Regions from separate parts of the Homo sapiens genome. Here region 1 is linked to region 2. The links come from fine-mapping of genetic effects on gene expression. A gene starts in region 2. The other region holds a variant in brackets. All regions are shown on one strand. Distances are between the middles of the regions.

Region 1 (5,375 bases), 350 kb after region 2:
CAGGAAATGGTGCTCGTCTTGCCTTTTTTTTTTTTTTTCCCATAAAACTCTAGGTGAGGCCATGAATAATTGGTCCTTTCTGGAGAGGGACTGATAATCTGTCTTTCCTGGAGCTATTACCAGGGTGGCCTGCAAGTGTTAAGAGGAGAAAATGGGGCAGTGGCCAGGGGTGGGGAGTGAGCTGAAGATAATGGAGTCGAGAGCTGCAGAGAGGTCCCCTCCGGGCAGCCAGACTGTGAATCATGGCAGTCCTGGGGGAAAATCGCACTGCCTAGCCTTCCTGCCCTGCCTCTGCGGCTGCCCCACATGGTTGCTTCCACTGGGTCTGCACCTGGGCTGTTTGGCTCTCACTGCTGGAGAGGCCTTGCCTGCCCCATGGGTATGGTGGACACACTGGCTCCCACCTATGTGGAGCAATGTGAAGGGCACCAAAAGTCTTCATCAATAACACCATGCCTGTGTCCATCAGCAGCCACTGTGGAACCTATTATGAACCTAGCACAGTGCTTGGCTCTGAGGGGCATCCAGGGAGGCAGAATACAGACCCTGTGCACATCGGCTCACCACGGGAAATGTCCACATCCCTGGCTCTGAGCAAGACCTGGACTGGCCCCCCTCAGAATCACTCCTGTAGTCTAACACCCCCCCATTAGAATGGAAAGGTGCTCCCCAGAGGTTTAATAGTCAATCCTCATAAGTGCATAGCATCCATAGTTTGTGGTGCATTTTTATGTTCATTATCTCATTTAATCCTTAAAATTATTTTATGAATTTGTTGTAGAAATAGAAACTTAAGTAAGAGATTCCTTTAAGGTCATGGATCTGAAAAGTGGTGAGGCTGCAATTCAAACCCAGAATTTTCTAAGAACATTGTCTTTCTTCTTTCTTATTCCCCTACTCCATGCCTATGGGGAAAAAAGGTAAACTCTGATGTGGTGAGAGGTCAGGGGTTGTGGGAATGGGCTGAGAAGAGGGTCAAGCTGGGCAGGATGTCGCCATGGGTGGCTCTGAGCAACCACATGAGTCTGAGGACCTGGGATTCTGCAAACTGCTGAAAAGGGAGAGAGCTGTCAGCCAGGCCTAGATATGTTTGTTCGTATTTCTCCCTTGAACTGAGCCTGCTAGAGATACAATTCCCAGATGGGCATAAGGACATGGACACTTGGGTAGGAATGATACAGAGTTGAATTAGGTGGTATTTGCTTTGTTTCTTTGGATCTCTCAGAGCAGTGACATTGATTTAGTGTCACTGTGCACAGTACTGGATGTCGTCGGAAGCCTATGATCTAGGAATTCACCATGCCTCTTCCATGGCTTTTTTTTCCCTCCACTGGGGAGGGGTCAAGTGCCTTCCTTTGCTCTGCAACTCTCCACTGTGCTTGGGAAGGTAGGTGCCCCCCAGCCCCATCAACCCTCCCTCTGACAGGGTAGCTAAGTGTCCCATTTGCCTCAGGAAAGAGCATTTGACTCAATAAACAGTACTGGTCTTGTTCAGGTACACTCCTTTTTCTGTGTCCTAGGTAGAATTCATATTTCCCATTACTTAAGCCCTTCTTAAGCCCTTTTGATCTTTGCTCTTTTGGTTTGGTTTTCCTGGGCTGCTCACCACAAAATTGCTGCCCTCTTAATAATACGAAAGATGCCCCATAGTGACCTGCCCAGTGTCTGTGTGTGTGTGTGTGTGTGTGAAGAGAGAGAGACCATGCTGCTTCTATTCCTCAGGTTGAGATATGACAGCTTCCTGTGAGACCCTTGAAATCCCCAAGGTGTTTTCCTATGGGGTTGTTCAGATGGCCAACACAGAAAGATCTCTGCATACACACTCACGCCCTGGAATCTGCACAATGAATGGCTGTCCCAGCAGGACCAGGATTGGGCGTTGTGTTGATTCCAAACACCCCACAGCACTTCCTTTTCTCCAGCTTATCTCTCATGGAGAAGACCTGAAGCCTGTTTCCTTGACAACCAGTCTCCCTCTTTCCCCATATTTTTTATTGCTGTGGTTATAAGGTGTATTTAAACCCAGCAGCCATGTTCCCATGGTGATAGAAGACCCCCAGTAAGTTGCCATGGGAACAAGAGATGTCTTTGAAAGAGGATAAAAGTAAGTCAGCTTTGCAAGCGATGACAGCAAAGTTAGAATCTAGAGAGGCTGGAGAATATGGCTCAAGCAGGTATCAGGTCATGGTTAATAGCCCAGCCTATTCTACCTGTGACCAGCCTCAGGTCATGGGGGGCAGAGAGGTGACACCAAGCTTCCTGCTCTGTTCACAAGAAGACTATGAGCAAAGCAATATGACTGCTGGAATTTAAAAACAAGTTCTCTCCAGTTGCTCTTATTTGCTATTTAATCCTTTGTCTCTCTTCTTCTGAAAGGTTTTTAGAGATAGAGGAACTAGGTGGGGCAGCTGAACTGAAAGACCAGGATGATGAAGGCATTTGTTCTTTTTAGCTGTTTCATAACAGGAAAGAAGTCACTTCTGAGTTCTGAGATCTGATGCCCTTACAAACAACAAGCATTATTTCCATTTTGTTTTTCCCTCAACATTTTGTTATTAGTATTTCCAAACATACAGCAAAGTGAGAAGAATTGGCAGTTAACATCATATACCTATCATTTAGTTTCTACTATCAACATATTACTACATTTGCTCTGTCATCTGTCTACCCATCTATCCACT[G/T]ATTTTTCCCTTAACTAAGAACTAGTTAGTGAATAAACTAGCATTCATACCAGAATAGTTTCTTGCCAAAGCATGTTTCCTTTCCATTATACTGCACTTAGGGTGACCAACCATCCCAGTTTGCCTAGGACTAAGAGGATTCCCAGGAATCCTGAGACTTTTGGTTTTAACACTGGTACAGCCCAAGAAGTTGTTTACCCCAATCCCTGCACAGTATGCTTTGGGAAATTTAGGGTTTGATTAAGGAGTAAGGGGCCCTGAGCAAGCAAGCACACAACTACCTATATAAACAACTGTAAGTAGAAAGAGAGACAGAGCCAAGTGTTGGAAAGGATATAGAGCTAGTGGAACACTCATAGACTGTCAGTAGGAGTGTCAATTGTTGTAGTCACTTTAGAACATGATTTGGAAGGATCTACCAAAGCTAGACACACACATAGCCTATGACTCAGTGATGCCACTCTAGGTGTACCCAAGAGAAATGAGAATATATGTTCACTAAAACAACAACAACTAAAAATCTAAAAGAATGTTCAAGGCAGCTTTATTCTTATTAGCCCAAACTAGAAACAACCCAAATGTTCATCAACAGAATAAATAAATTCTGTAAATGCATATAATGGAGTACTACATGATATTAAAGATAAAAAACTTTCTGACACGCACAACAGCATGGATGAACCTTAAAGACATAATGTTGAATGAACAAAAGCCAGACACAAGAATTTATACTATATGAGTCCATTCATATGAAACTGCAGAAAAAAAAATCTCACTACCATGATAGAAGTGAGTGATGGGCTTGGGCCTGGGGAGTGGGGTAGAATGGACTGAGAAACGGACAAGAGGAAGCCCTCCCAGGAGGCTTGATGTGTTGTTCAACTTGACCTGGGTTGAACTTGAGCTCTGTAGCTCTCTACTGTGCTTGGGAAGGTAGGTGCCCCCCAGCCCCATCAACCCTCCCTCTGACAGGGTAGCTGGCTGACTGAGTGTCCCATTTGCCTCAAGAAAGAGCAGATGACTCAGAATAAACAGGACTGGTCTTGTTCAGGTACACTCCTTTTTGTGTGTCCTAGGTAGGATTTTCTGTGTCCTAGGTAGGGGATTATCAGACGTCTTCCTATAGAAGCACTCATTGAGGCTGTATATGTGAGATTAGTGTACAGTTTCCTCTGTGCAGGTTATGTCTGAATTTAAAAGTTTTCAAAAAGACAGACATTAGAACTCCAAAAACTAAAACAAGAGTAAAAAGGATATAGACAGAGTAGCAAATACTAAAGCTGACAGAGAAAGAGAAAACTGCAGTGTGATTGCCAGTAAACCCAGAAGGGGCTGAAAAACACTAAAGCGTGCTACCTAATTACTCTTTCACTCCAGAAATGTGATCCATGGAGTCTGTCAGGACCAGAGATTTCACATCTCACTACAAAGACCCAGAGCAAGTTGCCTGCAATGGAAAGATACTTTAAGAGAAGAAAAGTCATTTTCTGTCCTTAAACAGGAAGGAACAAAAGATTATCTCTCCTGTCTGAACTGAGGGGTTATTTGAGAAAAACACTCAGGAATTACCCATGGGTAGGCTTTTAGGAAATTAAAATCTGCAAATAAGCTGGGCACAGTGGCTCACACCTATAATCCCAGTGCTTTGGGAGGCCAAGGCGGGAGGATCATTTAAGGCCAGGAGTACAAGACCAGCCTGGGCAACATAGCAAGACCCCCATCCCTACAAAAAAAAAAAAAAAATTTTAATTGTCCAGGTGTGGTGGCATGTACCTGTAGTCCCAGCTACTTCAGAGGCTGAGATGGAAGGATCGTTTGAGCCCAGGAGTTCAAAGCTACAGTGAACTATGATCATACCACTGCACTCTAGCTTGGACAACAGAAAGAGCCCTTGTCTTTTTTAAAAATAAAAAAAATCTGGATACAAAGAAAAGGTTGTTTCTGTGTTTCCCACCTCTGAAGAAGGAATCTACTCTGGGAAATTTCCACTCCCTACAATAGGAGTAGTATCTGCTGGGGACAGGTGCGTGCACGGTCTGAGTCACCTCCAACTCTGCACATGTCTGGAGCCAGCACTGTGGGGGTGGGAGGACAGGAACCACATCTGTGTCTTCCGGGTATACCTGCCAAGCTTTCAACCAGTTTCGAGGTGCCCTCAAAGTCAGGGCCAGCCGTTTGGAAGCCTGGGCCATTGCACTGACCTTCCCTCCCCAGGTATTCTACTCCTCGGCAATGAGAGAACATATCAACTCATCCTGCTCTGGGGAGGTCCCAGGTCCCTCAGCAACCACCCCCTACAAATAAAGCCTTTCCTCTCCCGCAGAGAGCCAGGGAAGACAGGGTAGGACTTCTCACCCTCCTGGCCCCTCCATCCCAGATACCTTGGCTGCATCATTTCATTTTTCATTTTGTCTGGATTAATTTTGCATTGCTGCATGATTCACACTTCCTGTCTGGCTTCCAAAGCACATAACTAGAGGATCCCTCTGGAGAGGAATGCCGATTAATACCTTTAACATGCCTGCTTCTGATGGGGAGAGCAGTAAAAATACATATTTTCATATTACATCTATATTCATCTATATATTTTTAACATGTCATTGTGCCACTTTGTACAGAATTGTCATTTTAAGTGGTGATTTGGCCTCACTCCAGGGATTGATGCATCAGGGTCAGGTGGCCTCTGAGGCAGCT
Region 2 (5,375 bases):
ACATGCTACATTTGAGTCCAAAAAAAAAACAAAAAAAAAAAAAACAAAAAAAAAACCTCAGATATATATACATATGTATATATACTTGTTGTTATGTTTTCATTTTCATTCTAACCCTTTGACTTGAATTCTTTGATTTTTTTAAAAAAAAACTATGGTACAAAAGACATTTTAATGGGAAATTATTTCTCTTTGGAAAACCATTCAACTTCTTTCTTTTGTTAAGCAACCTTGTATGTGTTTCACGTTCTGCCTTCTTCCCATCCTCAAGGTACCGGGCCAGGAAAGAGGTCGCTTTCATTCCAGGGAACACTGGTTAGAATGCCTCCCCTGCCTGGGCATCCAGGAACATCCCAGTGGGAATTCCTGGGCCTGCAACTTCCACGGGATCCAAATACTGATGACTGTACCCATCACGATGATGGAAAGGACCGCCAGGCGATCCCCCAAAAGGCCCACCAAATATCCGGGCTCCATTGTCACGCTCCCACCCGGGGGCGAGGATGTCTCAAAAACACCCCCCTTCCCCCGCCCCATGTGGACAGGTCGCGTCGCGGCACCCACGGGCACCGCGGAAAGGGGCATAACCGGGGTGGCCCCCGCCCAGGTGGCAGCGGAGACCCAGGGCCAGGCGGACTAGGCTTGGTCCCCACCCCTCCTCTCCGGGCCCTGCCACGGCCCCGCCCCGCCGTCAGTAGAGCCCCCGGCCCGCGGTCGGCCGGTCAGCGCACGCGCGTAGGTGTGCCTGCCAGGATGCCCTCCCCGGCGACGCGCTCAGGCCCGGATTCCGCGGCGCGAGAGTGAGCGCTGGCGGGGGCGGTGGGATGCTCCAAGTCGGCGTGAAAGAGGCGAGAGTGGGCGAGCACGGGCGGCCGGACCAGGAGCACTCCCGGTGACCACCTAGTCTCCATTTTATTTCCTCGGAAACTGCCGGGCAGGCGGGGGACCGGCCGCAGGGCGGGGTTTCTCTTGGCGGTGAGTGAGCGAGACCGTTAGGCTGAAGCACCGGGAGACTGTCCTGGCAGCTCCTGGCCGCCACCCGCGCCGCAATAAAAGCCTCTCGCGGCTTCCCGCCCAGCCAGCTTCGCACTGATTGGTCGCCGTGGGAGGGACCCGAGTTGGCTGGAGGCGGCGGCCGAGCGCTGCTCTTGTGCCGCCCGCGGAGGGGGCGCACTGGGTGCTCCCTGGCCCGCCCCGTGCGCTCCCCAACCGGGGGTCGGCCGTCCAGGGCAGGTACAACGGTACCTGGAGCTGCGACCGCGACACACAGCCCCTCCGCCCGGCTTTCCTCGATCGCTTCCCAGCACACGCCCCCCGCCCAGAATGTCCGCCCAACCCACCCAGCTCTCTGCGGCCCCTGCTTTTCTTCCTTCCCTCCCGTCCATCAGAGCCAAAGCGCAAATCCTTGGGTGGAGGTGGGGGGATGACAGCTGGAGGGGAGGGTGGGCACGCACAGAAGAATTTTCCAGGGAGGCCGGGATGGAAATAGCCAAAATGAAATGCACCTCCCTGCACACTGCCGAGGTTCTCTGGGCGGCGGCGCAACCCCCGCCACCCGCGGCAGCATCACTACTGTCTTCCTCCCAGCTCCCTATTGTTCACACTTTGCCAGGATCGGGAACCTCGCCCAAAGAAAGGAGACAGGGCGAGGTGTTTCGGGCGGCTACCTGCCATTCTTCTCCCGCCCCGTGCAACACTGGGCACGCGGCGCGTGTAAAGACACACGCGCGCACACGCGCGCGCACACACCAGGCAGCCCCAATCACGCCCTCCTCGCCCTCCGCCCCTCCGCACTTCCTCCTGTCAAAACGCGGCGCTCGACCCTCCCATCCTTCAGTGCTCGCGGCCGAGGGTAGGCTTTGCAACTAACCAGCAATTTGGCAAATGAAAAACTAACGTCATGTCGACTGGGGTGCAACAACGGTCACACCAACAACAACGGCCGTGCGATTCTGCCCATTTTGCCCCATTTTGCAAACCGTTATTCTTCTGGGGCGGGGGAAGCAAAGCAGCGATCCTGACTTTATTAGACCCAGGAATATAACGATCTGGGGCGGCTGCCCTAGCCTTATTGTTCACTCTTCCCGGAGCCGGGGCTGACAAGCCACTTCCCCCTCGGAATCCGAGCCCGTGCGGCGGCACCACCCGAGCCGCGACCTCCCCCGCCCCGCCGCCCGCCTTTGGGGAAGGAGCGCTGCCCATCACCAGCGCGGCCGCTGAGTCCCCAGGAGCCGGCCGGCTCTGCTCCCACCGCCGCGGGCGCACAAAGTGGGAAGGGCGGACGCGCCGGAGGGGCGCCGGGCGCTGGCGGCTCGGGGAGGCAGCCCCGTGCAGCGCAGCCCTGGAGGGAGCGGGGTTCGGCTGGGCAGCAAGGGCGACGCGCTCCTTTCACAGCTAAACGAAAATGACCAGCCTTAGCAGTCCACGTAAAACCACCCAAAATAATAGCGTTCCTCCTAGGAGTAGGAGGAAGGGGTAATTAGCAAACCAGATTGAGAATTAAAAAAAAAAAAAATGTACCTGCAGTTCCCAGGAAAAACAAAGTCCAGATGAGATCCTTAGTTTGCAGCATTGTAATCTGCTGGCTGGGAGGGATGTTCTTGCCGCGGTAAATTCTGTGCCCCCCCCCCTGCAGCGAGTGTGGACGGCGGCTGAGCGACAGACCTAGGGGCAGACAATTGCCAGGCTGAGTATGATTATTTTTGCAGAATTGTTTCCTGCCAGCGGCAGCCGAGCTGCGTTCACGCGCTGATCGGAGAATGAGTGACAGTCCCAGCCTCAGCACACTCGCAACTCGGAGATCCTTGCGCTGGCCCGGGTTCGTTTTGATGGAACTGGGATGGGAGCGAGGAGCGGGGGGCGGGGGTGAGAACCTCACTGTGTCCTTCCACCACGCCGGCCACAAATAGTGCCGAACATCAAGGAGGTAAGAGAGACAGGGGAGGCAGATGCGGAAGCCTGCAAAACGCGGCCTGGAGCTTTTGGGGGAGCCGGGCTCTTTCACACGCAGTCTCCCTGGGAGAGCTGGGATTTCTTTTCACACTTCTACCCTACGCCTTCGCAGGCGCTCCTGCTACCCAGCCTTCCTTAATCAGCAGTTTGCATATTTTGATAACTAGTAAATAATAAAAGCAAAATTTTAGATTTGGTTAGGTAAAGTTGTCAAATCCCTCCATTTCGATTCTAAGATCCTTGCAACACAAGGATAGCCCAGGACTTTAAGTGCGGGAAATTAGAACTTTGGAGAGGGATGGGGGTTGCCGTTGCTGGGTGTTGTTTGGATATTGTTTGTTTGTTTGTTTTATCCTAACTGTGAAGTTTGCTCTCCCACAGAGAGACATACAACACCCTTCAGCAGATCCCCTGGGAAGGAGGTGGGAAGAGACTTAAGTTAGAAGAAAACTCCGATGTTTGGAAGAGATTTCCAGAAATAACCCGAAGAAAATGTTTTCCTGTTTATAAATTCTGAAATCTGTGGTCTCTTTATTAAAATAGCCAGGCTTTTATATAGGTATTATGATATAGAAGCGTCATTAAATAATATTTTCTTACATGGGGACGTGACCTTAATTCTTAAAGATATTAATGTATAATATTACTGAGGTACCAACACAATAGGCTTTAATTAAAATTCCACCCGTGTTTTCAAAAGTAGGGGGTGGAGAAAGCGGGGTGAAAAGAATCATGTCTCAGCACCTGAAGGCTTGGGTATGTAAGGAACTAATGTGAGAAAGGTGTTCTAGATGTCAGGTTAACCCATTAGCCTAGAACACTGAAACCCTCTAACAGAGGAAGTCTGCATAAGTTCAAAGGCATTAAAGCACTAATGTTACCGGGTACTCCGTTTTTCTTCAAAGGTCGGCCTCCCCACTCCTGTAGCAGGTTTTTTGTTTTGTTTTGTTTTGTTTTGTTTCTGTTTTGTTTTTTTGAGATGGAGCCTCGCTCTGTCGCCCAGGCTGCAGTGCAGTGGCGCCATCTCTGCTCACTGCAACCTCTGCTCCCGGTTCAAGCGATTCTGCTGCCTCAGCCTCCTGAGTAGCTGGGATTACAGGCGCGCGCCACCACGCCCAGCTAATTTTTGTATTTTTAGTAGAGACGGTGTTTCACCATGTTGGTCAGGCCGGTCTCGAACTCCTGACCTCGTGATCTGCCCACCTCAGCCTCCCAAAGTGCTAGGATTACAGCCGTGAGCTACCGCACCCAGCCGCTGTAGCAGTTTTTAAAAGTCCATCCTCTACTGTCAGGACATCCATCCTTATTGGACAGGCCCCATCTCTTCCCCACTTTCCTCCTCTATAATAGACCAAGTGGGCCACACCAGTACAGTGTAATTAGCTTGGACCCCTGAAAAGTATTTCTTCCCCCAAGTAAATCTTCCACAACGTTTACTTTGGGCTATTTCTCTCATTCCAAGTATAAACAATTCAAAAGTACAGAAAAGTAGAAAGAACTAAAAATAACCCCAAATCCCACAGATTCCAGAGATACTCATAGATTTTGTCTTCTGTATGTGCATATGATTTTTATAATTGACATATTATAGTAGCAATTTGAATCCTGCTGATTTTGCCTAACATCAGTATAAGCATTTATTCCTCTGGATCATTAAAAAGCTTTTCTAGATATTTTTATAGCTATGTAATATTTCTTCATATGGATGATTTTGCAATGGTTTCCCCATTTTTGCATATTTATATTGTTTGTGGAGTTTGATAATATAAATAAGGCTTTTTTGAACATCTTTCAACAAATATTTGCGGAGCAACCACTGGGTTTAGCCCTGTGCTAGATGCAGTGAATTATATACGTCTTTTTTTAATGGTTGCTGTATTTAAGTGTCTTTGATTTCAGACTTCTGCTTCTAACATCTAAAATCACCACATTAAATATTACAGATTTATGTAAATGAATGTTATCAGACTCTTTCCTTAAAAAAGAGGTTTTGATGGTGAGGAAAGATAGAGAGAACAGGCAGGGGGTAGAGTGGGGAGAGTGAAGGTTGGGGCCCCCAAAATAAAAATTTTTCCAATTTTGCCCCTAAGAGTGAGAGACACATTCTTCCCTGCAAACCTCCCTCCTTATAGTCCTGTCAGTAGAATTAAAAGACTCCTCACTATTTTTCTCCCCAAATGTCCCTATTTTTAGCTTTTCAATGTAGGCAAGTGTGGAAATCCAATCTCACTTGAGTATGACTGAATTTCTTTTTTTTCCCTCTCTCTCTCCAGCCCCTCCCTACCCCGTGTGGTTGTTGATCTCTGTTGTAATGATTCATTCTAGAATGCTGCCCCAGTCATTCCAGTCCACACTCCCAGTATCACTCCCAAATTCTTTTAACAGGATATGTCACTTGTCTCCAATTCTGTATATCTCCGCTA

Alleles and levels. Positions count from the first base shown, and alleles are read on the strand shown. Sizes are in standard deviations (SD) of each study's normalised expression.
As copies of T replace G in region 1, the expression in pancreas of the gene that starts at base 2,765 in region 2 goes down (moderate effect, 0.44 SD a copy in GTEx).

Evidence for each region. PIP is the estimated chance that this variant, and not a neighbour inherited with it, causes the effect. A credible set is the group of variants that fine-mapping cannot tell apart.
Region 1: its variant is the best candidate, but not a certain one, in a credible set for the expression of NCAM1 in pancreas (GTEx, PIP 0.56).

The regions. Positions count from the first base shown.
Region 1 is chr11:112,613,152-112,618,526 of GRCh38, reverse strand. No RefSeq gene overlaps it. Among named protein-coding and RNA genes, the nearest start is that of LINC02764, 60 kb to the right of the region's middle. The variant G/T (reference allele first, on the strand shown) is at 2,682.
Region 2 is chr11:112,958,810-112,964,184 of GRCh38, reverse strand. It overlaps NCAM1 (neural cell adhesion molecule 1), which reads right to left and starts at 2,765. Exons shown (of 20, transcript NM_181351.5): 1 at 2,521-2,765. The coding sequence starts at 2,572. NCAM1-AS2 (NCAM1 antisense RNA 2) reads left to right here and starts at 725. Exons shown (of 3, transcript NR_120563.1): 1 at 725-975; 2 at 2,709-2,818; 3 at 3,334-4,906. RefSeq lists an enhancer at 2,045-2,822.